4 linked regions of the Homo sapiens genome follow. The protein of the gene in region 4 purifies or fractionates together with the protein of the main gene of each other region. This does not show direct contact. Each region holds a gene or a part of one and is shown on either strand. Other genes may lie near its edges.

Region 1 (9,414 bases), on a different chromosome or scaffold from region 4:
CGACCAAAAGTTTTATCACTTCAATTTCTTAGGATGACCAGAAAAGAGCTGCTTCGTAGCTCCAAGGAACAGGAACCTGAGGACTACCAAGGGCCAACTTGAGTATTGTGACTTCCTATTCCATTGGGTTTAGCCCGCAGACATACTACTTTTGACTCCACATGCACAGAGTAGAGTAGGTGCTTGATAAATATTTGTTGCTGAATGAATGAATTAGAAATTGATCATACTTGCCCTTTGAGTCTCTAGTGACCGTGTCATCTCCCAAATCAATATTAATACCAACATGATGAAATCTAAAAATTATTTCAGATATTCATCTTCTTTATTATTTCAGTTCCCACCGATGATAGCAACTAAAGGTCCAGGGAAATGCAAAAATAAATAGGCAATTATTTTGTGAAAAATTTTCACATGAAAAAGTCCTCTTTCCAGTAATCCCACCAGTTCCTTAATTCTAGAATGAAAAGAAAATTGGAAATACTTTATTGTATTGGCATATAGGGACTGAGACTAGAATTATACTTTCAGACAGGAGAAATTAGGTGAATAGTCCTGTTCTTACAGATTAACCATTGCTTTCACTGATCCATCACTGACCGCTGCAAATGGTTAAGTTCTATTACCATCTCACATAACATGTTCAAAAAGTAAAAAGAAAAAAGAAAGCTTTTTCAAAAGGTGAATTCTAAGGGACTCTGTAATGGCCCTGTTATTTGGAGTTTTTTTTACTTATATACAAAGCTGAAATGGCACCAAATATCCACTTTGCCTTGTTCTCTACCAACTCTTTAAAAGTAGGAATCTATATTTCTTGGCAAAGTTCAAAACTAAACATCAATCAAAGATTCTTAGCCATAGGTCTAGACCCTCTCTCTAGGCATGTATGAGCACATCTCAAAGGTAGATGAAATTTATAAATGCGTCTCTGGAGCCTCTACGAGCATCATTGCATGTGGGAAGGTTTCTGCTCCTGATGTGAAAGGTAGAATTGATCCCTATATCTGACCTGTATGTGGCATAATCAAATGAAAAGCAGGGAACTCCGCCCCTTTCTTTCACTTTTTTTTCCCTCTCTCATGTATGTTTTCTCTGTTTTTCTTTTTCCTTGCTCTTTTACATGAATGTAATTATCAATAGTCACTTGCTGATATTCATCCCCCATAGTACCTGGTGGCAATTGGGAAACAAATTATATTTAGCAAGACAATTTATGGTTTGTGTCAAAAGATACATGTTACTTTTGCTTCTCTTCACCTTCTGAGCTCCAGTCTACCACCCAACCATAAATATTATTCAAATATTGGAGCTTTATCTGTCTTTTAACTGAAGAACTACTTCGTTGTATGAAGAGTTAAATGTCTATTATGTAATTTTGTTTTATTCAAACAGTTGATATAATAAAGATATTCACATGCATTTTAAAATTATACACCGATTTATTATAAGTGATATAAAATACAGTGAAAAGAATTTATTGTTAAAAACTGTCAGTGAAACATCTGATACACATCTGGCTATGAATGGTAGATTCAAACGTGATAAAACTGCCACTTGAAATGCATCACAGTACCAGCAGGCACGTGGCAATCTTACCTCCTTACTTCTTTGATTACAATGATACGATATTCACTATATCCCTCTGTGGTTGTCCTTTTGTTAAAATTTGTTCTGGTTTTCATAGTTCCTTTTGTACTTCAACAATCACATTTTGGCAACTTACTCTGGTAATTAAAAGTTGGATTCAAGGAAAACTATGAACTCCCACATTTGTTCATTCTCCTTTCCATCCCTGAATTCTGTCTTTTGTAATGTAGACCTTGTGTGACCCACACAGCAAAATTTAAAAAATGTACCCACTTCAGATTTCCCCACCTATCCAACCTAATCTGATATCTCATCCTGACAGACTGCAGCTGCCAAGAAGAAGATTCCTGTGCTGCTCTCAGGAAAATATGTCCCACTTGTTTTCTAATTCAATAAAGATACTGGTTTAAATGTGAAGCCACACAAGAGAAAGATGAAGCCAAAGCTGTTCCCCCTGAGGAATTGTTTTGAAATAAGGCATTAGGACCCTCCATTCAATTCATATTTAATAGACCACCATCTCTTCTGCCTTCATCAGGAAAAAAACAAAAACATAAACAAAATAGTATCTGCCTATGATTAATAGTATTTAATTACACGCACTTTTGTTTGAGTTTACTTCCTTGCTTTCTGAAAAAAACATAGGTATTTAGACACTAGTTCATGATGATAAAATTAAAATTTAGTTTTACAAACAAAAATTGAAACTGTCATTTGTAGGAAAAAAATTCAAATTTAAAATTGTTATTTTTCACTATTCTTAGATAGCAAGAGAAGTAAGAATTTCTTTACTGTGATTTATATCACAACAGAATTTTTTTCCTTGACAAAGGACCTTTTAAAAATCCCAGGAAAGGACCACAAAATAATCAAAGACTGCACATTGTAAATAAAACCCTTCAGCTGTTATTGAAACATAAGTATAATTACACACAAGGAAAAGGTATTATAAGCAGAGAAAAGATGCCTTAAGAATTCTTTGTCTTTTTCCAAACTGATGGACATGAGTGAGCTCTAATATCATTATGTTTAGAAATGGCTTCATCCAGATCCAACTGTACACCATTAATATTCACTTCCATGCAGCCATTATAAAAGGCATTCACTGGTGTGGCACTGAATGGAACATCTGTAAAAGGAAAATATTAGAATATTAGTCCAAGACTTTTAGCATCTTGTTTGTTTACAGTGAGAGAAGTCATTCAGACTTCCTGTTTCCAACCAAATTCTAATCCTAAAGGAAAAGTTAATAGTGAAATTCTATTCCATAAATACATGTTAAGTGACGCCGATATACATGTTACTGTACTTCATTGAATTCAGCATGTCATGAGTTCCTCAGATTTCATAAACACAATTAGTTCCATTTAAACTTAAACACATTTGAGGGAGAGTAGAAACAAGCATATTCTTGTGATATTCTATTTTTATTATACAAATAACATACTATTTTCTCTTTAAACTTAAGCAACAGTTTAAGCATTGTTAAATCATTTTCTTAACTCCAAATTATAGCTACTTGGGAATCTCTTTTAAATGTCATGATCAATATATCTCTTTTATTATTGTTGGAATAAAAGCAGATTTCTGTATTTTTCCAAAGAAACAATTTTTTTGTTGAGCATACAATAGGTCATGATACAGGATTCACTTTCATGTACTATTTAGAGTTCCTAAAAATAACAATTTTCCTTCCTCTTTTTTGGCCTCTCCTCTCCATTAATCTTAACTCACAATGGATATTCTTTAGCCCTTATTCTTCATCTTCAGTACCTTATGCCAAAAAAAAACCTTTAAATTTTCAACTTCTAACTTGCCAACACAGTGAATAAAGTTCCTACTTTACTATGACTGTGAGCTCATAGCATTTGTTAAGAATCCCTTTCAAGTTGGGCTAAACATCATAGATTATGCCACTTTTCCTTTTTTGAGAAAAGAAATTACTCAAATTCATTCGATTTTGAGGAAAGAAATTACTCAAAATCATTCATTTCTCTTGGGTTTTAGTACTTCACATGGAATTTTACATGCCTACTTTGCATGTAATTAATAATTTACCCATCTCACAGTTTATACTCTTAATATCTCAATATTTAGCTCCTCTCAAATCTTCCCCACTCTTTCTCTCAAGACATTTTGCCTGAAGTTAGTCCTCAGTGCTGTTGCCAAAATCCCGAAACCACTGAAATTTTGATAATTCTACTTCTTTTAAACTCTTTGTTGGTTTGATTTCCTAAAATTGCATTCAACTAACTTGTGGATAAGGTAGTAGGTAGATTTCAATATAGAATTTATTCATTTAAACTATAATTTTACTCCCTAATAATTAGGCATGCTCACTACTTACCTCTATCTATCTATCTATCTATCTATCTATCTATCTATCTATCTATCTATCTATCATCTATCTATCTGTCTGTCTTTCTATAGCTTTTAAAGCCTATTTACTTCTATTTCCCAAAACCCCAGATACAATTTCCATATATGGGAAATCAAGACCATGAGCAGTTTAAGCAGTATATTGAAGGTTATCAGAGGTCCAGACATCAAACTCAGAATTCTCCCCATGAGAATAAATTGCAAATGTCATCTGAAAATGCTTCTAAATAACTTTCTGCCTCTAATTTTCCATTTAAAGTGAAATATTGGTGCCAATTTCATATTTTCCAATATTCAGTTAAAGATGAATCTGTTTTTCCTCCAGTTTTCCCCATCTTGGTAAATGGAATCTCCATCCATGCAACTGCTCATGCCAGATACCTAAAAGTCATCCTTATACCTGTCTTTCAGTTATTAAATCCTATTAATTTTGTTTCTAACACATATCTCCGATCTATTTACTGTCCATCATCTTCATTGTTATCACCCTGGTCCTGCAGCTTCCTCAGTTTCCTCATCTGTAAAATGGGGATAATAATAGCACTTACCTCACTGGACTATTTTGAAAATTAAACAAGTGGATATATTTGAAGCACGTTAAACAGTGCCCAGACTGTTTGTTTTGCAATAGTTGATGGTAGTTAGATACTACAACTATTGTCACTGCTCACGCCTGTAATCCCAGCACTTTGGGAGGCCGAGGCGAGCGGATCGCAAGGTCAGGAGATCAAGACCATCCTGGTTAACACGGTGAAACCCCCTCTCTACTAAAAATACAAAAAGATTAGCCGGGTGTGGTGGCGGGCACCTGTAGTCCCAGCTACTCGGGAGGTTGAGGCAGGAGAATGGCGTGAACCCAGGAGGCGGAGCTTGCAGTGAGCCGAGATCGTGCCACTGCACTCCAGCCTGGGCGACAGAGCCAGACTCCATCTCAAAAAAAAAAAAAAAAAAAAAAAAAGCTGGATAAATGATAAGATGAACTGAATAATAGATGAATAAATATTGGGTAAATTAGAACAAATATTGAACTTATAAGACTATTGTGATGATGAAATAAAATAACATATCCTTTCTGGCTGGGATAGCCAAATGAAGCAAAACTTGATCAGCCTTAGTTCAACATTTTTAAACTAAACAAAACAAAACAAAAATATGCCAATAAAATGTCGGTACTAGCCCCTAGAAAAAGAATAATGAATACTGGATTTTATGTTCCCTTCTGATGCTTTTTTACTATAATTATATATTTAAAATATTATCGGTTTGATTAAAATATACTTTTTAAAACTGAAGAAAAAGTAAGCAGATACCTGGAAGGCCACCCAGGTATGTGGCCACTTTTGCTTTCATTGCTTTGTCCAAGACGGCAAGTTGTCTTTGAAGGTCTTCATGGGAGATGGTTTCTATTTTAAGTGGTGTCGACAACTCCAGATTGTTTCTGTTGACTCTAAATTCCAGATGAGATTGTTGATCGGAACATAGACTTAGGGCCTGTATCCGATATATTACAGTATTTTCAACAGATAACAGAATATCCTGAAGAGCAGAGCAAAGATTCAATATAAGCAAGGAGTAAGAGTAATGCTGCTTAAGAGTGACTTTTGAGTTTTTGAAAGTCAAAAACTAAATTTCAATAAGGAAAGAAAATGTATGATAGAGCCTCTAAATTTAAGGGAAAAATCACTAATTATTATAAGACTAATTTATAATAATTATGACTAAAATTTAAAATACACATTAGTTTTACAAACTCAAAGTTTAGCTAAAATATAAATGTATACTGGTTTCTGAAAATTCCGTAAAACAACCGGAACCTATAGGAGTGTCTTATATCTTTCTGTTTATGAGCCTTCCTAATTTCCAAGTTTACATATGAAAAGGGAAGGAGTTGAATCACTCTTTGTTGAGAAAAGACTTGGGAAATTTAAAATGCTTTAGTAAGCATATGCCAGCAGGACTAACAGGTTTCTTTGTGCCACACAAGCAATCCTACAGACTTGGGATAAAATAAATGAAGAGGCCCTGAGAAAGAAAAACCAGGGATTGCCACCAGCACGTTATAGAACATTTACCAGAAGATTCTACAGAAAGAAAATGTGTTCATTCTGCTGAACCTTTCAAACTGCCGTTATGCCTAAATTACTCAATGTGTTGAGTGTGATCTCTTCATATAGCTTATATGGCATAGAGGAAAGTGATAAAAACATAATCAGAAATGTTTATTTAGGAATCCAAGATACCTATTTTAAGTGAAAAGACTAACTTTGCAAATATAGGTTACTTGAGGAAATCTGTTATTGTGTTGTACATGTCCGTATCCTTAAACTCATTAAAAGAGATTGTCAATAAAGAAAATGCTCCAAAATGATCAATGATATCTGGAATAATGTTATGAAATATTGCATAGACCTTGAGAAGGAAATCTGACATGCAAAGAAAGAACCACGGAGGCAAACACTCAAAGGATAAATTAAATATCAAAGACATGGCATGCGTTAACCTCCTCCACTGCATGAATGTAGTGTTTAAGATAAGAATTCCATTTTGTTTAAAAAGAAAAACAAACTAGCAAACAAAAAACCCCTGAAATCCAAATGTAGAAAGCTCCTTAAAGGCAGGAGATTAAAACAAAAACAAAAACAAAAAAAAACTCATCAGGATATTTTTAGGTTACTTATGGTTAACCACCAGAAACTTCCCATCCTCCTCCCTGAATCATACTTTAAGTTGCAAACAGCATAACTTGTTTTACTACAATAGACATTATTCAACCACAGGTCTCTTTCTAAAATCTACTGAAAGCATCCAAGTCAGCCTTGGCATAAACATCAGCTTCTTGCTGTAACTTGTTAGAATGCACTGTGGATGACACATAGACAGAACGACTATGCTCTAATAGAAGTCTGAATAATACAGATTTTCTGATAACCCTCATATTTCCTTTCATCTAAGGCTTTTTCGTGTTCTTCCTCCTAATTTCAAATAAGAGTTGCCAGTAAGAAACCAAGTGGACCAGTTTTAACTTTCTCTCTTTTTTCCTAACTTACTCTTGGGAGAAAAGATTAAGAGTGTAAGAAAGAACAAAACATTATAATTAAGCACTGAATATCTGACAGTGCACTGTAATTAGACTCACTTCTATGTTGACAGTACAGACTAATTCCCACAACACATAAAGTATTCTTAATAAGGGTGGATCTCTATGTACTCGGATGGCTCCAAGCAGCCTGTGTGAGAGTCTGCCTAATCTTAGGTATAGATGCAGTAGGTTTTTCATTCCTCCCTCCCCTTACTTCTTCATTCAGACCTTGGAAACAAGCCAGAAAAAAAGTAACAATAATAGACATTTTTTGAGTCCTTAATGATGTGCTGGAGATTGTGCCAAACACTTTACATAAGTTACTTTATTTAATCTTCAAAATAGTCCTTTGAGGTAAATACTGCTATGTATACATTTTAAAAAATGAAAAGAAAAACAAGGCTTATATAGGTTTAGAGTTAAGTTACCTGTGATTTTTCAGAGGTGGAGTCCACCAAGGACACAGCAAAGGGCACTGTGTTGTTACCAGAAACCAAGGCAAGCATAACACCAGTGCCCGTGGATGGACGAATATTCAAGGTCACATTTACATGCCAACCCTCAGCACTGGATACATTATCTATTTAAAATAATGAAACAGAAGCATGATCAATGCACTCCTAAAGTGCATCAGAAGGAATTATTATTAACACAGTCCAGGTAATATTCAAAACTATCTTGTGTAATACTATTTCCATTCCCTTTCTCAATGATCTATATAACCTAGGCAAAACAAAACAAACTTTTTTGTAATGCAGGCAAGAAACATGCAAATGGAGTACCATCTTCCCGTTCTTCCTAGAAGAGAATTCTGGATTGTGGTGTTAAGGATTATCATGGATTTTCCCAGTTTGCTCTTTAACAGTGCTTCCTTCTCCCTTGCACATTCACCAATGCTCAAATCTCAGAGTGGTCATATTTCCAAGCACACGTTTGAAAATTCAACAAATTTACTGTAATAATTTAGGGAAAATCTGGGTACAGTTGCCATCATCACTCCAAAGGATAAATATGATCTATATACATAGGAGAGTTGGATAGTTCGATACTAGAGAAATACACTGACATCAGCAGTTAGTTTTGAAATCAGAATAGGAACCCTTGTTTTGTGAATCTCTTGTCATAATCCTTCACATTCTCTTTCTTAATTACTAGGTTAATTGTCTATCCCACTAACATGCAAGCTCTAGGAGGTATATATCTCTATCATTGCTTTGTTTTCCCCAGCACTCACTCAATAGATATTTGTTGAATTAATATGTTTCCAGAATAGTTGGATTACTAAAAATATTAGTTCATAATCTGAATGAAGTCTTCCTCATTTAATATGATGTAACATACAGCAAAGCCCAAATACCACACGGAGCCCTTGAAAGGGTAAATGTGAATAAGGAAAATCATTTTCCTTTGACAAGATGTTCTTCCACTTAGCCACATATAATGTCACTGTTTTTCATTATAATCCTGTAACTCCCATCCAGAAGAAAAAAAATATATAGACCGGGTACGGTGGCACATGCCTGTAATCCTAGCACTTTGGAATTGCCTGAGCTCAGGAGTTCGAGACCAGCCTGGGCAACATGGTGAAACATCTCTACTGAAAAAAAAATACAAAAAATTAGCCGAGCATGGTGGTGTATACCTGTAGTCCCAGCTACAACTCGGGAGGCTTGATTCAGGAGAATCGCTTGAACTCAGGAGGCAGAGGTTGCAGTGAGCTGAGATCACGCCACTGCACTCCAGCCTGGGAAAAAGAGTGAGACTCTGTCTCCAAAAAAAAAAGAATGTTTATATGTAATCATTGTGAAATAAGTAATTTTTAATTGATATATCATAATTGCACATATTTTGGGGTACATATGTCATTTGATAAATGCATACAATGTGTAATGCTCAAATCAGGGTAATTGGAATTTCTATCACCTAAACATTTATCTTGAAATAAGTAAATTTAACACAGAATATTAAACTCAAACTAAAATGAACACACGAATGTATAGAAGTTAAAATGTAACATTAAATATTAATTACAAAGTAGATCACTTACAAATTATCCATGAAATGATTAATTACTTATTAAAGTAATTTTTTTAGATACAATATAACTCTTATTTTCATTACCTTTTCAGGATTTTTTTCCTTTGGCCAAATCACCATGGATTTAGTTTTATCCTAATTTAATCCTCACCCCATTTATAACTTTAAAAAAATCTTTCATAGGCAGAACAGAACTAGGCATTGTATCAATTTGTGTTAGAAAAAGGGAAATCATTTTTGTAAAATTTGTCCTTAAAAATACAGTAAAAAAGGCTGGGCACAGTGGCTCATGCCTGTAACACCAGCACTGGGAGGCTGAGGCAGGAGTATCA
Region 2 (6,641 bases), on a different chromosome or scaffold from region 4:
AATAGCATAATCTTTCCTTTTTGGGGGAAGAGATAGTACTTAAATGGAATTCCTGGTTTCTTACAGAAAGAAACAGATTCCTGAAGATTATAGTCTTTTTGAATTCTGTGGTTCTGTGAGCTAACTATAAAACTCAAGGAAACTAGCAAATAGGTTGTAATTCTTCCAAAATGGGCCAGACTGACAAAAAGGGAGCAAGTACTATACTTCTTTACTGCTTAAAAACTTAAACAAGAGGTCTGGAAGCCTGTTGCTTTCTAGTTGATTCTAATTAATGTTGCTGAAGAGGATGGAAATGGTTAATATTCTATCAACAAAGGGTGAGTGGTTATCTATGAATTAGATAATGAGAATCAATTATCACAACAAAAAGAGACATTTTTGCAAAAAAAATTTGCATGTTTCTTCCTTTTGTTTTTCAGACAATTGAGAATCTGAAATTCTTTAATCCTGAAATTCTTTAATCCTATCTCTCACAGTAATTTACCAACACAATTTTTGCATATACTTCTAAAACTTGATTTAGAAACAGACTGTGTTTTAAATTTGTATTTAATTTTTGTAAAGTTATGTTCCTGTGTCTGCTCACAAAAGTCTATAATGCTTGGTATAACTGTACTCAAGCTGAACTATAGGATAAAATTTTAAAAGTTAGGCCGGGTGCGGCGGCTCATGCCTGTAATCCCAGCCCTTTGGGAGGCTGAGGCGAGTGGATCACAAGGTCGAGAGATCGAGACCATCCTGGCTAACACAGTGAAACTCTGTATCTACTAAAAATACAAAAAATTAGCTGGGTATGGTGGCACGCGCCTGTAGTCCCAGCTACTCGGGAGGCTGAGGCAGGAGAATCATTTGAACCCGGGAGGCGGAGGTTGCAGTGAGCCAAGATTGCGCCATTGCACTCCAGCCTGGGTGACAGAGCGAGACTCCATCTCAAAATAAAATATAATAAAATAAAATTTAATCTTTGACAGCAAAAACATTGTCAAGAACATATTTACTTTCTGTTATTTCTCACACACACACCAAAACACTAGTCCTCAGCAGTGTGTGGCAGGGGTATTTTTTATTCCAGTGGCTTGGCAGTCCTGCAGTGTCACCATTGACCCTGCTCTGGATACAGGTGAAAAAGAGGGAGGAGTGGACACAGTGTTATGGCGGGTGGGTGCAGGGGACTTAGGCTACATGGTGATACCTGGAGCTGAGGATAGCAGCACTGTTGATCTTGAAGTCAGCATGCAGTGTGGACAGGTTATTTTTGGTAGCATTATAGCAACTGGCATTTGTATATATGGCTTATTTATAAGTAGTATTTGAATAGAATACTGCCCTAGGAAAAACAGAGTGAAAGAGATGCTAGAAGCATGGACTACTGGAGTGTTTTACACCCAATTTTCGGAATGATTTACCTGTGTATATACAGTATAAATGACTAAAAGTTAAACTTGTGGAAGCAAATTTCTTGGCTAGTTAAGAAGGAAAGAATGGGAGTTTATACTTTTCAGAAAAAGAAGGAACACTTAGGTGATTATAGGCAGAAGGGTAGTAACTATGTAGAAGCAACAGAGGAAAGAATTTGGAATAGGATTTCCATTCCATGCTTTGCAGTTTTTTCACATCTGTGCCCTTCTTGGAGTGCACTTTCTTCCCCCAGAAGGATTTTCTCTAATCTGATTTTGTTGCTTCTACCCATAATCGTACTCTTGATGCTGAATGCTGATTGGCAAGTCAGAAACTTGGCCAGGCATGGTGGTGCACCTGTAATCCAAGCTACTTGAGAGGCAGAGTCAGGATTGTTAGAGCTTAGGAGTTCTGGGCTGTGATGCACTATGCCAGTCGGATGTCTGTACTCTTTGGCATCAGTATGGTGACCTCCCAGGAGCAGGGACCACCAGGTTGCCTAAGGAGGGGCGAACTGGCCCAGGTTGGAAAGGGAGCAGGTTAATACTACTGTGCCGATCAGTAGTGGCATTGTGCTTGTGATTAGCCACTGCACTTCAGCCTGGGAGACATAGGAGATCTTCATCTCTTAAAAAAAAAAAAAAAAAAAAAAAAACTGACAAAATTGTTTGAAGATTTTTTCTTCCTTTAGACAAAACTTGAATACTTATACAGAATGATATTCGTGTCTTAAAAATAAGTATAATATTTACCATCTTATTTTTGTTCTTTGTTTTCCTTGCTAGAAAGTACACAGATGATAGATTAGTTTAACATTGTTGTAGTTCACCTGGTATAAATGGTAACCATCTTGACTTAGTAGACATTGCTGAATTGCCTCTTAGCTAACTCTGGGAGATTAAGATTTTTTGTTAGGAATTATGAATTTGTTTCCAAGGAGCACATAAAATCTTAAGTTACAAGAATGGTGGATGTTCTAAGAAATACCTTATAACTGTTTCTTCATGGAGGCTCATTGAGTATTTCTTACAGTATCACTCTAATTTATGTTCACAAGTGGTTGGAGTTTCCCATTAAAAAGAACAGAGCTTCCTACCAAAGAAATCTAAATCTATTAATAAATTTGCAGCTCTCAAGTAACTGAGTGAAATTGGCAGTCCAATTAAATATATTTACCTTCCAGTTTTTGCATGTTGTATTACTGACATTTCTGTTACACATACTCAAGTTGAATAGAAACATGTCAAAATGCCAAGTATAGTGGCTCACACTAACTGCTCGGTATGTTTTCTATCTCCCTTTTTTAAAATCTCATTTTAAAATATTAGACAGTCCTTTTGAAAGAAAATGGTATAATATCAAAGAACCACTGGGTAGGAAATACTATAAACGATCATTAAAAATAATGCTAGAGTTTGCAATCAAAGCTTCCTATTATGTCTGCTCTGCAGTATGATTTGAGAGGTATAATTTCGGGTATAACATGCGTTTCCCTAATTCAAGTTCTTTGTCTAGTCTTAGTGGATATTAACATTGAAAACCACTATTTTGAAGCATCTTGGTCCATAGTTCTCTTCCTTTTTGAACTTTTAGTCACTAAGCACTTTTGCAAGAGGTAAAGAGCCTCTTTAGGTTTTAGTGTTTTTCATCTTTAAAATGAGAATATTAATTACAGTGCTGTCTTCATCACATACTGAAATGGAACTATGTAGCCGACTACTAAAGGTACTACTGCTAAGCAGGGATCTACTTACCACTGAAAGACTACTAATGGTCTTCCATGATATATGTAAACAGAATCTTTTGTGAATCCTTCACCACACTGAAGCCTTCTATAGTCTACTCATTCTCTCATTTTAAAAAGTTTATTCTTTCCTTCTTTAGTTTTCCTGTTTGTTTTTTTAGATGCTGTGTACTCAGCCTCAAGAATACTTAGAGCCACGAATTGAGGGTTCCTCTTCATTTCTCCTTCTGTTTGGTTCCTTGTTTGCTGTTGTGAATAGCATTCCTCAAAAAGATGCATCAACATGAATGATGCAAATGACCATCCATTTTTGTGCATTATCATTTGCAAGCACAATATGGTCTAAAGTATTCTTAAGTTCCTGACAGTTAACTTTTGATGAACTTATAAGTAGCACAAAATATGTTCTTCAGAAATTATAGAACCACTGTAGTTTGAAATCTGTGTTCAAGGTTGTCTGGTGTTAATATTAGAATAATGGGTAATTTAAAGAAATAGGTATTCTTTAACTTAAATTGAAATGAAGTAATATTAGCAGTTTTCTCCTTTGCTTAGAAGAATTATATGTAGGCCGGGCGCGGTGGCTCCCAAAGTTAATCCCAGCACTTTGGGAGGCTGAGGTGGGCGAATAACGAGGTCAGGAGATTGAGAACCTCCTGGCCAACATGGTGAAACTCTGTCTCTACTAAAAATACAGAAGTAGCTGGGCATGGTGGCGCATGCCTGTAATCCCAGCTACTTGGGAGGCTGAGGCAGGAGAATTGCTTGAACCCGGGAGGCGGAGGTTGCAGTGAGCTGAGATCACGCCACTGCACTCCAGCCTGGTGACATAGCAAGACTCTGTCTCAAAAAAACAAACCAACAAAGAATTATATGTAAATAGCAGTTAATAACTCAGATTTTTAAAAAACTGATTTATTTATTTTTAGAAACAGGGTCTTGCTATGTTGCCCAGGCTGGCCTCAAACTCTTGGGCACAAGCAGTCCTCCCACCTCAGCCTCCCACCTCAGCCTCCCAAGTAGCTGGGACTATAATAGGCGCCACCACTGTGCCCAGTTATTTTTAATTAAAACTTATGGTTTGTTTAGTTATAAATAAAGTTGACATTTTAAAAAACAGACTAGTTTCTTGCTAGAAATACATGTTTATGTATGTGTTGTGAACATATATATGATTGTGTTTTAAAACAGATATGACCACATTCTGAAGTGGGAACTCTTCCAGCTGGCTGACCTGGATACATACCAGGGAATGCTAAAGTTGCTCTTCATGAAAGAATTGGAGCAGATTGTTAAAATGTATGAAGCATACAGACAAGCCCTTCTTACAGAGTTGGAAAACCGAAAGCAGAGACAGCAGTGGTATGCCCAACAACATGGAAAAAATTTTTGAGCTGATTTTTTAAAAATTTAAGTTTTGTAAGAGCTTTAAAATATTTTCACAGATAAAAAATTGCAAACAAGTACTCTGGTTAATAAATGCTGCTTCCTTTGTGGAAATTATAAAATTCTAACTTTACATGTATTTTGTTATTAGAAATTTTCTTTTATTGAATGAGAAAAATTAGTCTATCATTTTAAGAGCCAATATGGCAAACACTTTCAAATACTGTATATTAGGAAACTGTTTTGGTATTCTTGATGGAAAAAAACGCAGCGGAAATGTCATTATGAACAGATGTTAAATAGGAAATTATTACTTGTTAACTTCTTACAGCAGTAGTACCTTCTTTAAAAAAAAAAAAGAATCTGCGGTATTTTTTTAAAAAAAAAGTTTACCGCTGTAGTGTGAAATATTGTCTGGAAAGGGATGGTTTAAATATTACCATGATGTAGTTGAAATATAAAATAGGATTTGGAACCTTATTGTGATAAATATTTATATATGATGTATGTTTGTCTCCCCTCTCCAAAGTAAGGAACCCAGCTGGGCGTGGTGGCTCACTCCTGTAATCCCAGCATTTTGGGAGGCCGAGGTGGGTGGACCGCTTGAGTCCACGAGTTTAAGACCAGCCTGGGCAACATGGTGAAGCCCCATCTCTACAAAAAATACAAAAAAATTAGCCGGGTATGATGGTGTGTGCCTCTAGTCCCAGCTACTTGGGAGGCTGAGGTCAGAGGATGGCTTGAGCCCAAGAGGCAGAGGTTGCAGGGTCAAGATCGCACCACTTGCACTGCAGCCTGAGAGAGAGAGAGCCAGACCTTGTCTCAAAAAATAAAAAATAAAAAAATAAAAACAAAATAAGGAATCCTTTTAAAGCATGTTGAGAAAGTATTTTTTGGTATGAATGGGTGACGGGCCTTTTAATCTTTCAGGAATACATATAAGCAGGAATACTTAGCCTGTATTGGGAAGGTGCGTGAAACTCAAAGTTGCTAACATCATCTTCCTTATTTTCAGCCAGTGCTGTTACTGCATTTAGCATGGCTCTGACGAGGCAGTGGAGAGTTCCTGACAGCATAGCATACTGCCTTCTGACAGACTGGGTTAAGCTACCAAAAATGACAACCAGGGATTCAAAAAAAATTTTTGGTCATTAAATCGAATGTATATTATTACTTTTTAATTTTCTAAGTATTTATCACAGGACTTTAACACCATATATTTCCCTCCCAGTTTTTCTCCCCTTTTGGTTTAATAGTTAAAACATTTTTCATAATTAGTGCTGTACATTTGATTGCAAACAAATTGGTGATACTTCTAAACTATAACTATAAATCTCTAGAATTCTGTGAATTTCAACATTATTTGAAGTAGTTCTTCAGTTATATTTACATGTGTTGTAAATATGTAAATATACTTTTAGCTTAGGAAGTCTTCCAGAATACAAACTACTCCCAGTTAGATATCAGTGAGTTTGAATAACTGAAGAAATGTTGACAATGTTAAGTGTTTGATTTTATATAACAAGCTTATTAAATATATTTTTGTGGAAACTAAGCGCGTGGTTTTTGAGTCCATGTTTTAGACATAGTGCTGTATTTCATTTTTCTGTTCAAAAGGCCATAGACAAAGGAATCAATATAATTGAAAGGGGTAATGAAAAGGGGTATTGAAAAATGAAAGTGTGGCTAGTGGAATTTTATCACTGGGAAAAGATAATTTGCTGAACTTGTGATCAGACTTTTCTAAGATGTCAGTATATATATCTTATGAACTCCCACACTCCTCTATCTTAATTGTTCTTTCCTGTCACTTCTTACTTTATATCGCTACTTAATTATGGTGTAGCCATTTCTGTGACAGTCTTTAGAAGTTTCTCTGTTTTGGACCTCCTAGATAAGTATTACTTTTTTCATTAACACACTTTCCTTCTTCCTCTAAGAAGTCTGTTCAGTGAAACTCCACTAGAGATTTTAGTCATTAAGAACTAGAAGTTACCTAAAGGAATTAGCATGTTTTGTAAAATAGAAACTTAAGTTTGTACTGATGTCAACATTAAATAAAATGCATCTTGAGTCTAAAAAAAGAGATAAACCTTCATCATTCTATATC
Region 3 (9,414 bases), on a different chromosome or scaffold from region 4:
TTGTAGAGAAAGGGTCGCGCTATATTGCCCAAGGTGGTCTTGAACTCCACCTACCTGGACCTCCCAAGGCACTGGGATTACAGGCATGAGCCACCATGCCCAGCCTACTTTGCACTTTTTTTTTTGGGGGGGGGGCAAAGTCTGGCTCTGTCGCCCAGGCTGGAGTGCAATGGCACAATCTTGGCTCACTGCAACCTCCACCTCCTGGGTTCAATCGATTCTCCTGCCTCAGCTTCCCCCTTCCTCAGCCTTCCCAGTAGCTGGGATAACAGGCATGCGCCACCACGCCCCACTAATTTTTGTATTTTTAGTAGAGATGGGGCTTCCTCATGTTGGCCAGGCTGGTCTTGAACTCCTGACCTCAGGTGATCCTCCCACGTTGGCCTCCCAAAGTGCTGGGATTACAGGCATGAGCCACTGTGCCCAGCCTACTTTGCACATTGTTTTTTTGTTTGTTTTTTTGTTTTTGAGACGGAGTCTCGCACTGTCATGCAGGCTGGAATGCAGTGGCGTGATTCTCCTGCCTCAGCCTCCCAAGTAGCTGGGATTATAGGCACCTACCACCATGCCCGGCTAATTTTTTTGTATTTTTAGTAGAGATGGGGTTTCACTATGTTGGCCAGGCTGGTCTTGAACTCCTGACCTCGTGATTCATCCGCCTCAGCCTCCCGAAGTGTTGGGATTACAGGCGTGAGCCACTGCGCCCGGCCACTTTGCGCATTTTGACTGTTGCCTAATGTTCTGTCAGATCACTGTGCCATGACATCTGTTCTCCTGAGGGTGGACGTTTTGGTGATTTAAAACCGTATAGATGTGGTTTTAAATGTTTTAAATGTTGCACCCTGTGCTGTGCTCCTTCCCAGCAGAGAATTGATTCATTTTTCAGCATATCCCCCTTAGCCCCTAGCTAAGTTTCTTAAATTGGACTTGGTAAATGTGCTTTGCCTGCCCATGGAAGATGTCTTTCTGTTTTACCGTACTTGTTTTTGCAGTATGGGTTTAGGGAGTAGCTGCCATTTATCCCTTCCCAAGAGAGCAGAGGCACTACTATGCTCACGGAAGGTGAGGATCCACCTGGGGGCTTGATGTCTATTGGGGTAGTTGTGGAGGTCACCCTCAGAGAAGGAGGCCCTCTTGACTCTGCGGTGGTCATGGTGGTGATGAGAAAGCTGAGGCGTGGGTATATGAGACAAGTGCCCAGAGTCTGTCATTAGCAAGTGGTACAGCCAGCCATGGGGGCTTTTGAGATGTTTGTGAGATAAAACCTCACCCCTCAAGAAGCCGGAATCTCCTTGTCGTGGGTAAATAGGCAGGTTTGGGCCGGGCGCGGTGGCTCATGCCTGTAATCCCAGCACTTTGGGAGGTCAAGGCAGATGGATCACCTGAGGTCAGGAATGCGAGACCAGCCTGACCAACATGGTGAAACCCCATTTCTGCTAAAAATGCAAGAAAATTAGCTGGGTGTGGTGGTGCACGCCTGTAATCCCAGCTACTGGGGAGGCTGAGGCAGGAGAATCACTTGAACCTGAGAGGCAGAGGTTGCAGTGAGCCAAGATCACACCACTGCACTCTAGCCTGGGTGACAGAGCGAGACTCCGTCTAAAAAAAAAAAAAAGGGCAGGTTTGAATGGTGGGGCATATTTGTCATGTTCTCTGTACAATGATAGAGGGAGAAGTAATCGAGCTAGACCTTGACCAATATGGGACTATGAGAGACAGAATGGCCTAGATGGGTGACTAAAGGTGTTCAGGGGATGACAGGTATCCCTTTTGGACTAAGGACTGCTGATGGGGCTGAGTAGGTAAGGCTTGAAGGAGAGCAGCCTGGGGAGGATGAGACAAGAGGTAGGGAAACTGGTAGGGGCATCACTGCTGTGGTCTGACCCAGAGTGGTGGCCCTGGAGGAGTGGAGGGTGGCTGTCTGAGATGGAGGAGAGGTGAAGGAATCAGAACTAGTAGGTTCATAGGGCACATGGGTTAGAAAGGAAAAATATTAAAACAGTGAGGTTTCCAAGATGGAAATGGTAGCTTTGATAGTAAAATTAGACAAGTTGGAGGGCTACTAGCTAGATTAGGCACTGAGCTGTAGGTGAAACTGGGAATGTGAACCACTGGGAAAGAAGGATGGGCTCGAGCAGGGTGTGTGGGATGAAAGAGAGAGGTCAGAAAAGGGAGAATTATCATAGAGCAGAGTTTCCAGGCAAGAGAATCCTAAGTGAGAGGTGGTCATGGGGTATACACCTTGGCTGTGGCCATCTCTGGGGCCTTGGTGAGAAAGATGAGCCAGCCCAGGAGGGGGAAAGGAATGGGTGGGTGGCTGGATAGAGGTCCCAGGTCCTGGAGGCAGACTCAGGGGCAGGCACAGATAACTGAGTGTGTTTGATGGGAAGCAGTAGAGCATCCAGGGGATGGGGTTGGGGGTGGCCCTGAGCCTCAGTAGTGAAGAGAGAGACCTCTTCTTTTTGGCAAGTTTTATATCAGCATATATTTTTCATTTTTTCTTTTAAAGATATATAATCATGTGCCACACAGTGATGTTTCCGTCAATGACAGACCAGACCACATGAAGGATGGTGGTCCCATATTTTTACTGTACCTTGTCTGTGTTTAGATACACAAATTCCATTGTGTTACAGTTGCCTATAGTATTCAGTACTGTGATATTGTGAAATATATATTTGGTCTTGTCTCATTTCTTGGCATACAACTTCTAAAATCTTTGGACTTTCCAGAGTGATGCCTTTTTGTATGCTGGCCAGCAGCCCCTAGGTAGCTTCAGGATGGGGGCTGGTGACAGGAAAGGCCAAGGCAGGCATAAGAGGGTTGGGACTTTCAGCCTCACCTCTCAACCTCCGGAGAGGGGAGACAGGCTGAAGATTAAGTTCATCACCAATGGCCAGTGATTTAATCAGTCATGCCTACATAATGAAGCTTCCATAAAAATTCTGAATGACTGGGTTTGGAAAACTTCTGGATAGTTGAACACATGGAGGCTCCTAAAGAGTGATGTTCCTGGAGAGGGCCTGGAAGCTCTGCACCACTTCCCACATGTCTGGCCCCATGCATCTCTTCATCTGTATCCTTTGCAATACCCTTTATAACAAACCAGTAGACATGAGTATTTTCCTGAGTTCTGTGAGTCGCTCTAACAAATTAGTTGAACCCAAGAAGGGGATCTTGGGAACCCAATTTATAGCCTATTGGTCAGAAGCACAGGTGAAACAACCTGGGAGACTCAGCCCTCAACCTGTGGGATCAGACACTGTCTCCAGGTAGTGTTAGAGTTGAATTAGAGCAGGGGTCCGCAACCCCCAGGCCTCAGACCTGTATCAGTCTGTGGCTGGTTAGGAACCAGGTGGCACAACAGGAGGTGAGTGGAGGGTGATCCAGCATTACCACCTGAGCTCCACCTCCTGTCAGATCAGAGGTGGCATCAGATTCTCATAGGAGCACAAACCCTGTTGTGAACCATGCATGTGAGGGGTCCAGATTGTGTGCTCCGAAAGAGAATCTAGCTAATGCCTGATAATCTGAGGTGGAACAGTTTGATCCCGAAACCATTCCCCGACCCCGTGGAAAAATTGTCTTCCAAGAAAGTGGTCCCTAGTGCCAAAAAGATTGGGGACTGCTGAATTAGAAGACACCCAGCTGGTATCTGTGGCAGAATTGATTGCTTGCTTGTTAATGGGGAAAAACCCTCACACATTTGGTCACAGAAGTCTCCTGTGTTTGTTGTTGTGGTATAAGAGGAGAGGAAAAACAGTGTGTTTTTTTCATTCAGAACTACAGTAACATGCTGTACAAGTATGTAGCTTAGGAGCAATTGGCTGTACCTTATGGCCTAGATGTGTAGTAGTCTCTACCACCTAGGTTTGTGTAGGTGTACCCTTTGATGTTCACACACTGAGGAAATTGCCTCCAGCGATATAAGTCTCAGAATGTATCCCCAACATTAAGTGATGCATGACTGGAGGTAATTGGAGAATAAACATATTTTGGGGAGAGGAAAGTAGGATGAAGTGAGGTGGAGAAGACAGATGTTCACATCTTGTAGCTGACTGTGCTGTGCCTACAGAGCCTGCAGCTTGGCCATGCCTCACAGTGTGGGACTGGCCACTCCCTGACCTGAACAGCTGGCTATCCACAGTCACTTTTGGTTGCTCCATGGCAAAAGTGCATTTGCAGTAGGTTCATTTTACTGATTAGGTTTTAGAGGCTCCAATTCAAATCAGTTTGCGGTTTTTGAACGTACTGACTCAATTATTAGAAGATAATCTTTAATTTAAAAGGCAATGCAGATGAATTTAAATGCATCAGGTTCAATCACAGTTACTGTGCTTGACTCTCAGAATTTCAGTAAAGGAAAGTAGGCCCTGGAAATGCCACCCCCTTGGCACCCACCTCCCAGACTCCTGGCTGTGTGTCTCCTGACCACTACTCAGGTCTTGCCATTTTTATGCATCCATTACTATGAGGAAGAACCCAATTTTGTTCATTCAATGGGAGGGAGGAAGAGCTCTTGAGAACCTGGTGTGTGCTTATGCTTCATGTTCATTGTTTTACCAATTTTAGAATACCCCAATGGGGTAGGTACTTTTATCTCTCTTTTTAAAATTGGGGAGCTCGAGGCTCAGTTTGGTCATGTTGTAAGTCCCTGTGGAGTTGGGCTCCAACCCAGGTCAGTCTGTTTCCCAAAACCCTTCTGTTTGACTTTGCCGCTGAAGAAGATACAATGAGATGAAGAGTCTTGGGCATGATGGCACACAGGTCATCAGGAAGAAGGCCATCAGGAAGTTGGACTAGAGGTGGGAGGGGAGAAGGAATTAGGGGATTTGGAAATAGAGGGAAAACAGGTGAGCCTGAGGGAGGCACAGGAGCAAGGGGAGCAACAGAGCTGGCCAGTCTGTGTGTGGTGGGGCTGATGCCTGCCTGCTCACCCCTGTCCCCTGTTTTGCCAACTGTCAGGCCACAGTTGTAAGGGATCTTGTGGCTGTCAGGATGGCAGAGGAGCAGGAGTTCACCCAGCTCTGCAAGTTGCCTGCACAGCCCTCACACCCACACTGCGTGAACAACACCTACCGCAGCGCACAGCACTCCCAGGCTCTGCTCCGAGGGCTGCTGGCTCTCCGGGACAGCGGAATCCTCTTCGATGTTGTGCTGGTGGTGGAGGGCAGACACATCGAGGCCCATCGCATCCTGCTGGCTGCGTCCTGCGATTACTTCAGGTGAGTTCACTAGAGCTGTTTGTAAGAAGAATAACAAAGGTAATCCTGGCTCTGCTAGTAAAGGTACTGGCGGTGACAGTGGCTGGTCTCCTGCTCACCTCAGAGCCTCCCCTACTCCTTGTGGCTATGACTTAGTCAACAAGTGTGAGAGACAGAAGGGGGTCTTAGAGTTCATTTTTCATTCAGTGATCCTGTTTCTTGGGCTTTGCCTCCTCTTCTCTTCCCTCTCTTCTCTTCCTTTTCTTTTCCTTTTCTCTCTCTTTTCTTTTCTCTTTTCTTTCCTCCTTTCTCTCCTCCCCTCCCTTACCATTCCTCCCCTCCGTCAGTAATTATTGCTGTGTATGCATCACCTTCTGGCTCACACCTCTCATCCCTCAGGTGTTAGCCTCTGGCCCTCCCAGTGAGCTCTGTGGCCCCTCTGGGGTTTCTTATGGCCTCCTTCGTGACCCCATCCCAGCACTTGGCACAGTGTGAGGAACCACTGGCTTATCTGTCTTTTCCACTGGGTTGGAATCTGTCTCTTATCCCTAGCACCTGACATGGTTTTCACATATTCAAACAATACCCATGGCTTAAATGAATAAATTTATGTACACAGATAGCAGATCAATACACCATTTGCCCTGTTGTCTGCACTGCTCTGCACTCAAGGAGGTGGGTGTCACCACCCTTATTTCACATAGGTGGCATGAGCCTGAGAAGGACTGAGGGCCACTCGTGGTCCCCAGCAAGGTTGTCATGGGACTCCAAGCCTGAGGTGTTCCATTCTAGCTCTGATTCTGTTCAATCATTTTGTCTTCAAGGCTTAGTTGTAGTTCTCTCTCTCTCTCTTTCTCTTTATCTCTCTCTATTTTTTTAATTAGGAACTATCAAGCAAAATATGTATGGTTTAAGTGCCTTCTGTCTCCAAAAGGAGTTTTGGAGAATGTGACCCAGTGGTGGCTTGGTGCAGATGTGTCCAGGAGCAGCAGAATTCTTTCAGTTCACCAGGGAAATTCAGCTGAGGCCTTTAATAAGCATTAAGATAACATACAGGACAGTGGGTAGGGTAGAGGAGCTGAGGGCCCCCTGCAGGGGACTTAGGACCTGTATAGGAGAGGATGGCCAGAGGCTGTGGAGCCTATGGGATCCCCTGGGCTCACCCTCTCAGCCCTTCTTGATTTAGTGTCATACCACTCTTTCTGAAGATGACAGTGTAGGCAGCCTTTCGCTAATCTGTCAAAAACCTTATGTGGCTTTCCACGTCCTCCAGGAGCAATTTCTAGCCCTTTCCACAGCCCCCCTTGGGTAAACCTCTTATGAGAGGTGTCCTGCTCTCCGGGATGATTACAATGCATCACTAACACCCCCTGCATCCCTCCACTTCCATTGGGAAGGGGAGCGGGAGAGTGGCAACATTATTGGAAGAGCCCAGAGTCATTTCACAGGGGGGTGTGTGTGTGTATGTATAAATAAGAAATAGAGGCCAGTCACGGTGGCTCACACCTGTAATCCCAGCACTTTGGGAGGCCAAGGCAGGTGGATCACTTGAGGCCAGGAGTTTGAGACTAGCCTGGCCAACATGGTGAAACCCTGTCTCTACTAAAAAAAAAAAAAAAAATTAGCTGGGTGTAGTGGTGGGCGCCTGTAATCCCAGCTACTTGGGAGGCTGAGGCAGGAGAGTTGCTTGAACACAGGATGCGGAGGTTGCAGTGAGCCGAGATTGTGCCACTGCATTCCAGCCTGGGTGACAGAGCAAGACCCTGTTTCAAAAAAACAAAAAAGAGGCTGGATGTAGTGGCTCACGCCTGTAATCCTAGAACTTTGGGAGGCCGAGGCGGGTGGATCACCTGAGATTAGTAGTTCGAGACCAGCCTGGCCAACATAGTGAAACTCCGTCTCTGCTAAAAATACAAAAACTAGCGGGGCGTGGTGGCACATGCCTGTAATCCCAGTTACTTGGGAGGCTGAGGCAGGAGAATCACTTGAACCCAGGAGGCGGAGGTTGCAGTGAGCCTAGAAAGAGGCCAGGCTTGGTGGCTCACTCCTATAATTCCAGCACTTCGGGAGGCCAAGGAGGGCGGATAACTTGAGGTCAGGAGTTGGAGACCAGCCTGACCCACATGGCAATACCCTGTCTCTACTAAAAATACAAAATTAGCTGGGCGTGGTAGCACATGCCTGTAATCCCAGCTACTCAGGAGGCTGAAGCAGGAGAATTGCTTGAACCCGGGAGGCGGAGGTTGCAGTGAGCCGAGATTGCGCCACTGCATTCCAGCCTGGGCAACAAGAATGAAACTCCGTCTCAAAAAAAAAAAAAAAGAAAAGAAATAGACCATTCCCAAGTGTTAGCATGTTTATTATTTGTTTTAGTTACTTGTGAAATGTTAAAATGATAAAGGACTATTTTTTTCCCAGTATGACTGGTAAATATGTGTGAGAGGCTTGTAATATTTGATATGGGCAAGGGTAGAGAGAAGGGCATTTAGGGGTGGGCTGGCCCATAGTTTAGGGCCCTGCAGTTGTATGTTGGGTGTCTAGGTGTCATTCCTGTGGGACGATGCACCCAGTGCTGAGACATGGTGCAGGACAGAGCCTTTCTGTGTTATCCAATGGAGCTACTTGCAAACTGGGCAGTGTGGTGTGTCTACTGATAGGGAGTGAAAAACCTCAGGACCTGGTGGAAGATGATCCCAACCATGAAGATCTGGAAGGATCTTGCTGCACCGTGGGGACTCAGCAAAGGGCAAAGGGAGAGGGAGGCTGAATTTCTTCTGTTTACTGCATTGTCTGAATTATTTTACAAAGAACATAAATTTCTTTTTTTTTTTTTTTTTTTGAGACGGAATCTCACTCTGTCACCCAGGCTGGAGTGCAGTGGTGTGATCTCGGCTCACTGCAACCTCTGCCTCCGGGTTCAAGCAATTCTCCTGCCTCAGCCTCTCGAGTAGCTGGGACTACAGGTGTGCGCCACCACGCCCGGCTAATTTTTTGTATTTTTAGTAGAGACAGGGTTTCACCATGTTGGCCAGGCTGATCTCGAACTCCTGACCTTGTGATTTGCCCTCCTTGGCCTCCCAAAGTGCTGGGATGACAGGTGTGAGCCACACCACGCCCAGCCTTTTGTTTGTTTGTTTTGAGATGGAGTCTCGCCCTGTCCCCCAGGCTGAAGTGCAGTGGGGCAATCTCGGCTCACTGCAACCTCTGCCTCCCGGGTTCAAGTGATTCTCCTGCCTCAGCCTCCTGAGTAGCTGGGATTACAGACGTGTGCCACCAAACCCGGCTAATTTTTGTATTTTTAGTAGAGGCGGGGTTTTGCCATGTTGGCCAGGCTGGTCTCCAACTCCTGACCTCAGGTGATCCGCCTGCCTTGGCCTCCCAAAGTGTTCGGATTACAGACGTGAGCCACCATGCCTGGCCTCTTCTCTGCCTTTTCTGTCCTGTGGAAATTTTTCTTCTTTGGCCCACCTGAGATGCCTCCTCCTCTGGAGAGCTTTCCCTAATTGTCCCTTGCTGTTTCCCAGGTGGAGGAATCTCAGTTTTCCTGAAGGGCAGAGAGCTGTACTGCCCTGCTGCAGGAAGCCTCCTGTGCTCTTTCTGTGTACTCTGTACATGGTTTAGGAATTGGATGGCCAGACTGCATTTTCTTTTTTTGACTTTTGTTAATAACTTTTCATTGCACACTTACTTTGGCTCCCCTGACCCTACACCCACCTTGTATGCTTTAACCTTGTATGCTTCTGAGGTGGTTTCTCCTCTCCTCCTGGACCCTTATAGTCTGAAGAGCCCAAAGGCTCTGTCCTTTTTATACAACCTCCATGGGTCACCTCGTCCCTCCCTTAGTTTTCATTCCATCTGTGAATTATAAAAGACTGCTTAGCTGAACTCAATGTCTGTTACTTTAAAAGTTTGGATACAATTGATGATTTTATTTTTAAAAAATTAATAGCACTTTATCCCCAAAAGAGAGAGAAAGTTGTATTCCCCACAAAACACAAAGCCCAGATGTTTTCCAGGGTAGGTGTGCCTTTTATGAAAAGACTCCAATGCCATTTAAATTTTTTCAGAGCAGTTTCAGAAAAAGAAAAAAAAATTTTTTTTAATTAGCTGGGCATGGTGGCGTGGCCTATAGTCCCAGCTACTTGGGAGGCTGAGGAGGGAGGATAGCTTGAGCTTGAGAGGTTGAGGCTGCAGTGAGCCATGATCATGC
Region 4 (5,114 bases):
TTTTGAAATGAGGATGTGTGTTCCATCCCTGTTTACAGCCACTAATACTGGAAGTGATCAAGCCTCACACAGGATTGCTTCGCAGCCAGCCAAGGAAAACACTTCACTAGAAAAAACAATTACCTGAAGCAGTTTCTTTCCTCTGAAATTGTCGATTTTAGGGTTTAGTTTCATTTGTTTCTGTTTTCATTTTATGGCTTGTCGCCTTTTACTTTTTGTTTTAATTTTATATTTTAAATACATAAAATGTTAACTGGTTCAAAAGTTAAAACTGCATGAAAGTTACACTTATAAAAGGCTGGCTTCGATTCCTACCCTCTGCATGCATTTTTATCCTCAGAGATGACCATACTCATTAATTTCCATTCATTCCTCCTGTGTCTTTTTCCAAATAGGTGTGGACAGTCTTAATTCCATTCTTTCTTGTATGAAAGTCAGCAAAGACCATGTACCTGCCTCTTTGCCTCATTTGTCTCACTTAATGACACGTGCTAGAGATTTACTCTGTGTCCATTTGTAGAGAACTTAAAGGGAAAGGGTTTTAATGTTTTTAACAGACTCCAGCATCTGCAGAGAAATCATGGTATTCTTGATCCTTTAATTACACAATTATGTCCAGAGATGTCTTCCGGGGGTGAAGCTCAGGTAGACGCCTCTGTGATTCTCTCACCGTGTGACTGGGTTCCAGGGGCACCGGTACTGTTCGGGGTGTTTGCTTCGACACACAGGGTGGTGTGGTGATGGAGCCAGCAGGTGCAATGGTTGCATGTGTGGGTATTAGACTCCCTGCCAGTCCATGTGCCACCCACCAGCTGGGCAATGAGACAGTAAGGGCTTCTGCCCCATGGGCAGTCATGAGGATGAAATGGCCTATTTGAGTGTTGTTGTTGTTGTTGTTGTTTTTTTGGGTTTTTTTTTTTTTGAGATGGAGTCTCGCTCTGTCACCCAGGCTGGAGTGCAATGGTGCGATCTCGGCTCATTGCAACCTCTGCCTCCTGGGCTCAAGCGATTCTCCTGCTTCAGCCTCCAGAGTAGCTGGGATTATAGGTCGTCCGCCACCACACCCAGCTGATTTTTTTTATTTTCAATACAGATGGGGTTTCACCATGTTGGCCATCCTGGTCCCGAACCCCTGACCTCAGGTTATCTGCCTGCCTCGGCCTCCCAAAGTGCTGGGATTACAGGTGTGAGCCCCCATGCCTGGGTTAAAATGGCCTGTTTGTTATATAGACAGTGCGGACGTTCCTTACTGCCTCACAAGTCCTAGTTACTCCTGGTAGGGCCTGGTTTTGTGGAGTTTTGATGGAGATATTTTCCCAGCATTAGAAACGAGTGTGGAAGCTTTGCCCCCTCCCCATGCCTGCGACTCTTCACATTGCCTCGTTTCACCTGTTCCCGAAAGGAGCAGGAGATCCCTGGCCGCTTGCCCGGCTGCTCTCGATGCTGGGGGCTGGGCTGGGACACAGACCTCTGACTGTGTCTGTCTGTCTGCCTTGGGAAGGGTCCTTACCTACTCTGTCTCCAGTCTTCTCTGATCTGTTTTGGATGCTTATATTTGCCTTGAAATCATCTCTTTTGGATTGTAAAAAATATATTCTGGAGTCAAATAGCATAATCCCTTATGACTCTTTTAATCTATTTTCTCTTAATCTGTGGTGATTGATACTTGCTGGAATTTTTTTTCCTGGGTGTTTCTGACAGGTGAGCTAAATCCTACCATGCCCACCCCTCCCCACCTGGGGGCACAGGTGCATGAATTTGATATGTTTCTCTGATTTTGTCATTTTTGCTTTTATCTTCCTTCATTCTATTTTCTTACTTTCCTCATTCTAACGCTTTTTTTTCTAACAAGAGCTCATTACAGATTCATTGATTTTAATTATTTCTTGCTAACCCATTTCAGTATTAAAGACTATGAGTTTTCCTCTGGGCTCATCAATTCTGATATGAGTGTCCTGGTTTTATTGTTCTAGACATTTCACAAGTTTGTGAAAGTGGACCCTTTTGTTTTGTAGATAAGAAACTTGAGGTATTTTCTCCACCAGAAGCTGCCCATGGGTCTGTAGGAGCTCCGGTTCTGCCAGGCGGTGGCCTGGGCCTGCCCCGACCCCAGGCCCTCGTCCCTGAATCCCACACCCAGCAGTGGCTGCGCATCCAGACAGGACATGCTCCAAGGGTTTATTAATAACCTCTGCCAGAGACTCTGCCCCCAGGGAGCAGCCTCCCCATGGCCGTGGTGCAGGTGTGCAGCAGGAAGGGGATGGCGACACAGATGACCACGTCATCGTCTTCTGAGCTGTGGTTATTCTTTGAAAGGGCAGGAGGAAGTCCCACTGCTCTGGAGGTGTGGAAGGGTGGGAGTCTGGTCTTCCTGGAGGCGGAGGTGAGCTGTTGGGTTTACAGGTCACTTAAGTAGAGGGAGGAAGAGCAGGGTGTTTCGGGGGAGCCCTGGAAGGATGTGGTGGGCTTGAGGACACCCCCTTAAGAATGTGGCACTGAAATCCCAGCACTTTGGGAGGCTAAAGCGGGGGGATCATGAGGTCAAGAGATTGAGACCATCGTGGCCAACATGGTGAAACCCCGTTTCTATTAAAAATACAAAAATTAGCTGGGCATGGTGGCACACGCCTGTGGTTCCAGCAACTCGGGGGGTTGAGGCAGGAGAATCGCTTGAACCCAGGAGGTCGAGGTTGCAGTGAGCTGAGATTGTGCCACTGCACTCCAGCCTGGTGACAGAGCGAGACTCCATCTTAAAAAAAGAAAAAAAAAAAAGAACGTGGGACCGAGACCTGCAGGTCCCCAGCTTCTCATGCCCTTCCATGTAACCATCCTCCTTCCTCCTCCTATAGCCCCCACCATTTCCAACCAACACCCCTAACCCCAAAAGAAAGCATGAGGTCTGACTATAGGGCACAAGCCCGTGACTAATACAATGGCTGCAAGACACAGGCTGGGCTCGTGAATGGGGACGTCAGCAGCCTGGCTTTCTGGAATCACAAGACCAGACCCCAGTTCATTCCTGTAGGGTCAGCCCTGAACTGGACACAGTAGGGTCTGTCCCAGGGGCCCAGAGAGGCAGCCGCAGACAGTGGGCGAGGCTGATACATTACCCAGGAGGCAGGACCAGGCAGGAGCTCACCTAGAAACGGCACGGCTCTGTGGGAGGAGATGGGACAGTGGAGGTGTCAGCGAGAGAAGAGACAGCTGGGGACACAGCAGCCCCAGGGCTAGAGAAGGGATGAAAGGATGGTGGGAGAGGGCAGGACCCCACCTCAGGGTGGCTCTGCACCCCAGAAGGCCAGGGGAGAACAGGGGAGGGGCCAAAAAGGAGTGACCTGAGTCCTGCAGAGCCAGCAGGGGGCTCGGGCTAAGAAAGAGGCAGCTTCTCCTCCAGCTGAGGCTGGGCGTGTCCTAGGCAGAGCTCACCTTCCATCTGTTTCAAGTCCAGCAAGTACCATAGGTGCCTGGGCAGGGGCCTGAAAGCCCTGATGAATCCCTGCATGATCTCATCGTCCTCCACCAGGACTCTGGCTGTGGAAGAGGCTGGGTCAGTCCTGGGCCCCTGGGGCTTCCATGAGAGCTGGGGAGCTCCAGAGGCCTTGCCTGAGGAGGGAGGGCAGAGAAGGAGGCCCCAGTGCTCCGAGGTCTGGCAGAGTTTGGTCTGGAGTAGGTCCCTAGGGCGGTCTCCGGGGCTCTGTCCACTGCACCTCCAGGTTCCCTGACCCCAGCTCCCACTCCTTGGCCCGGCCCCCTCTGCTCCGCTCTGGGCAGCGCTGGGGTCTGCACAGCTTAGGATGGTGTCTACAGCGTCACAGGAGAGCACAGTGCCTGGCTCTCCCAGTGCCCGGCTCTCACCAAGCATGGCTGAGGCTGATCAAGAAGACACCTGTGTGACCCCAGAGGAAACACTGTGCTCAGAAACATGGGGAAGGGCTGTGCCTATGTGGCTATTTTGGTATTCCTGGCCTTCGTTTGGTTGACAGCATCATAGGTTTCAGGGCGTTTTGACTGGACGCCCAGTGAGTATTAATCTATCCACCAAGCCCAGCCCCTTGACTGGCGACCGTCCCACTGGCCCTATATCAGCTCCTTGCTTTGTCAGAGGACTCGATGAACCGCTGGAGAAAAACTCAGCCTGGCCGGGCGTGGTGGCTCACGCCTGTAATCCCAGCCCTTTGGGAGGCCAAGGCGGGTGGATCACTTGATCCAGGAGTTGGAGACCAGCCTGGCCAACATGGTGAAACCCCGTCTCTACCAAAAAATACAAAAATTAGCTGGGCATGGTGGCGTGCGCCTGTAATCCCAGCTACTCTGGAGGCTGAGGCACGAGAATCGCTTGAATCTGGGAGGCAGAAGTTGCAGTGAGCCGAGATCACGTCACTACACTCCAGCCTGAGTGACAGAATGAGACCCTTTCTCAAAAAAACAAAGCAAACAACAAACAAATAAAAAAAACCAAGAAAAAAAAAGTCAGCCCACAGGCACCGAGGTGGACAGGAAGCCAGTTGTCAGCTCCCCAGGGTTCCCAGCCACGGACGTAGCTGCTGCCTCTCACCCACGTTGAGCTCATGTGCTGTGAGACCCACCCAGGTACTGGCACATCATGCTCTGGATGGGGGTGGTGGTGTCCTGTAGGCAGAGAAACAGGAAATTGTCGTAGTCAGTATCGAGCAGCGTGGCCTCGTTCGCCACCGTATCTGGGGAAAGAAGAGAAGAACCAAAAGGAAGATGAAGCCTCCGTCTCAGCAGAGTCCTGTGCAGGTGTGTGGACATCCCACCACACTAAGTGGCTTCCTCATCCACTGACACCATGGGACGTGGCCCCTGCTGTGGACCATGATCAGGGAAGCCAGGGAGGAAAGGGGAGGAGAGGCAATGTGGAGGGCCATGGAGCCCCGGCTGAGGGGGAGAGGCCAGGTGTGCCGTGGAGAGGCAGACACGGCAGGCAGGGAGGCTGTGACCTGGAGAGACTCCAACTGAGAAGTCACGTACGGGTGAGGATGGCGGGAGATGGCACAGGAACAGGGCACAGGGGCGGGAAGAGGGAGAAGAAATGGACCTTGGAGAGTGGCTCGATTCTGGGGAGGGCAAGCAGGGTCAGAAAGGCCTGAGGC

The links.
Region 1: the proteins of PAEP (region 4) and PROS1 purify together in Homo sapiens (co-immunoprecipitation; 2 studies listed by BioGRID and IntAct, with this or other methods). This does not show direct contact.
Region 2: the proteins of PAEP (region 4) and SAV1 purify together in Homo sapiens (co-immunoprecipitation; 2 studies listed by BioGRID and IntAct, with this or other methods). This does not show direct contact.
Region 3: the proteins of PAEP (region 4) and KLHL22 purify together in Homo sapiens (co-immunoprecipitation; 2 studies listed by BioGRID and IntAct, with this or other methods). This does not show direct contact.

Annotation. Positions count from the first base shown.
Region 1 is NC_000003.12:93,871,690-93,881,103, forward strand, and holds the end of PROS1 (vitamin K-dependent protein S isoform 2 preproprotein), read right to left. Parts: intron 7,626-9,414; coding exon 7,474-7,625; intron 5,503-7,473; coding exon 5,277-5,502; intron 2,717-5,276; coding exon 2,556-2,716; 3' UTR 1,362-2,555; downstream 1-1,361. UniProt on the Homo sapiens protein: Anticoagulant plasma protein; it is a cofactor to activated protein C in the degradation of coagulation factors Va and VIIIa. It helps to prevent coagulation and stimulating fibrinolysis.
Region 2 is NC_000014.9:50,633,080-50,639,720, reverse strand, and holds the end of SAV1 (protein salvador homolog 1), read left to right. Parts: intron 1-4,336; coding exon 4,337-4,538; 3' UTR 4,539-6,141; downstream 6,142-6,641. UniProt on the Homo sapiens protein: Regulator of STK3/MST2 and STK4/MST1 in the Hippo signaling pathway which plays a pivotal role in organ size control and tumor suppression by restricting proliferation and promoting apoptosis.
Region 3 is NC_000022.11:20,484,796-20,494,209, reverse strand, and holds part of KLHL22 (kelch-like protein 22), read left to right. Parts: intron 1-645; exon of another isoform or gene 646-951; coding exon of another isoform or gene 952-1,062; intron 1,063-1,068; exon of another isoform or gene 1,069-4,379; coding exon of another isoform or gene 4,380-4,442; intron 4,443-4,965; coding exon of another isoform or gene 4,966-4,998; coding exon 4,999-5,225; intron 5,226-9,414. UniProt on the Homo sapiens protein: Substrate-specific adapter of a BCR (BTB-CUL3-RBX1) E3 ubiquitin ligase complex required for chromosome alignment and localization of PLK1 at kinetochores.
Region 4 is NC_000009.12:135,563,827-135,568,940, reverse strand, and holds the end of PAEP (glycodelin isoform 1 precursor), read right to left. Parts: intron 4,698-5,114; coding exon 4,587-4,697; intron 3,604-4,586; coding exon of another isoform or gene 3,532-3,603; coding exon 3,427-3,531; intron 3,157-3,426; coding exon 3,140-3,156; exon of another isoform or gene 3,111-3,139; intron 2,408-3,110; exon of another isoform or gene 2,389-2,407; 3' UTR 1,986-2,388; downstream 1-1,985. UniProt on the Homo sapiens protein: Glycoprotein that regulates critical steps during fertilization and also has immunomonomodulatory effects. Four glycoforms, namely glycodelin-S, -A, -F and -C have been identified in reproductive tissues that differ in glycosylation and biological activity.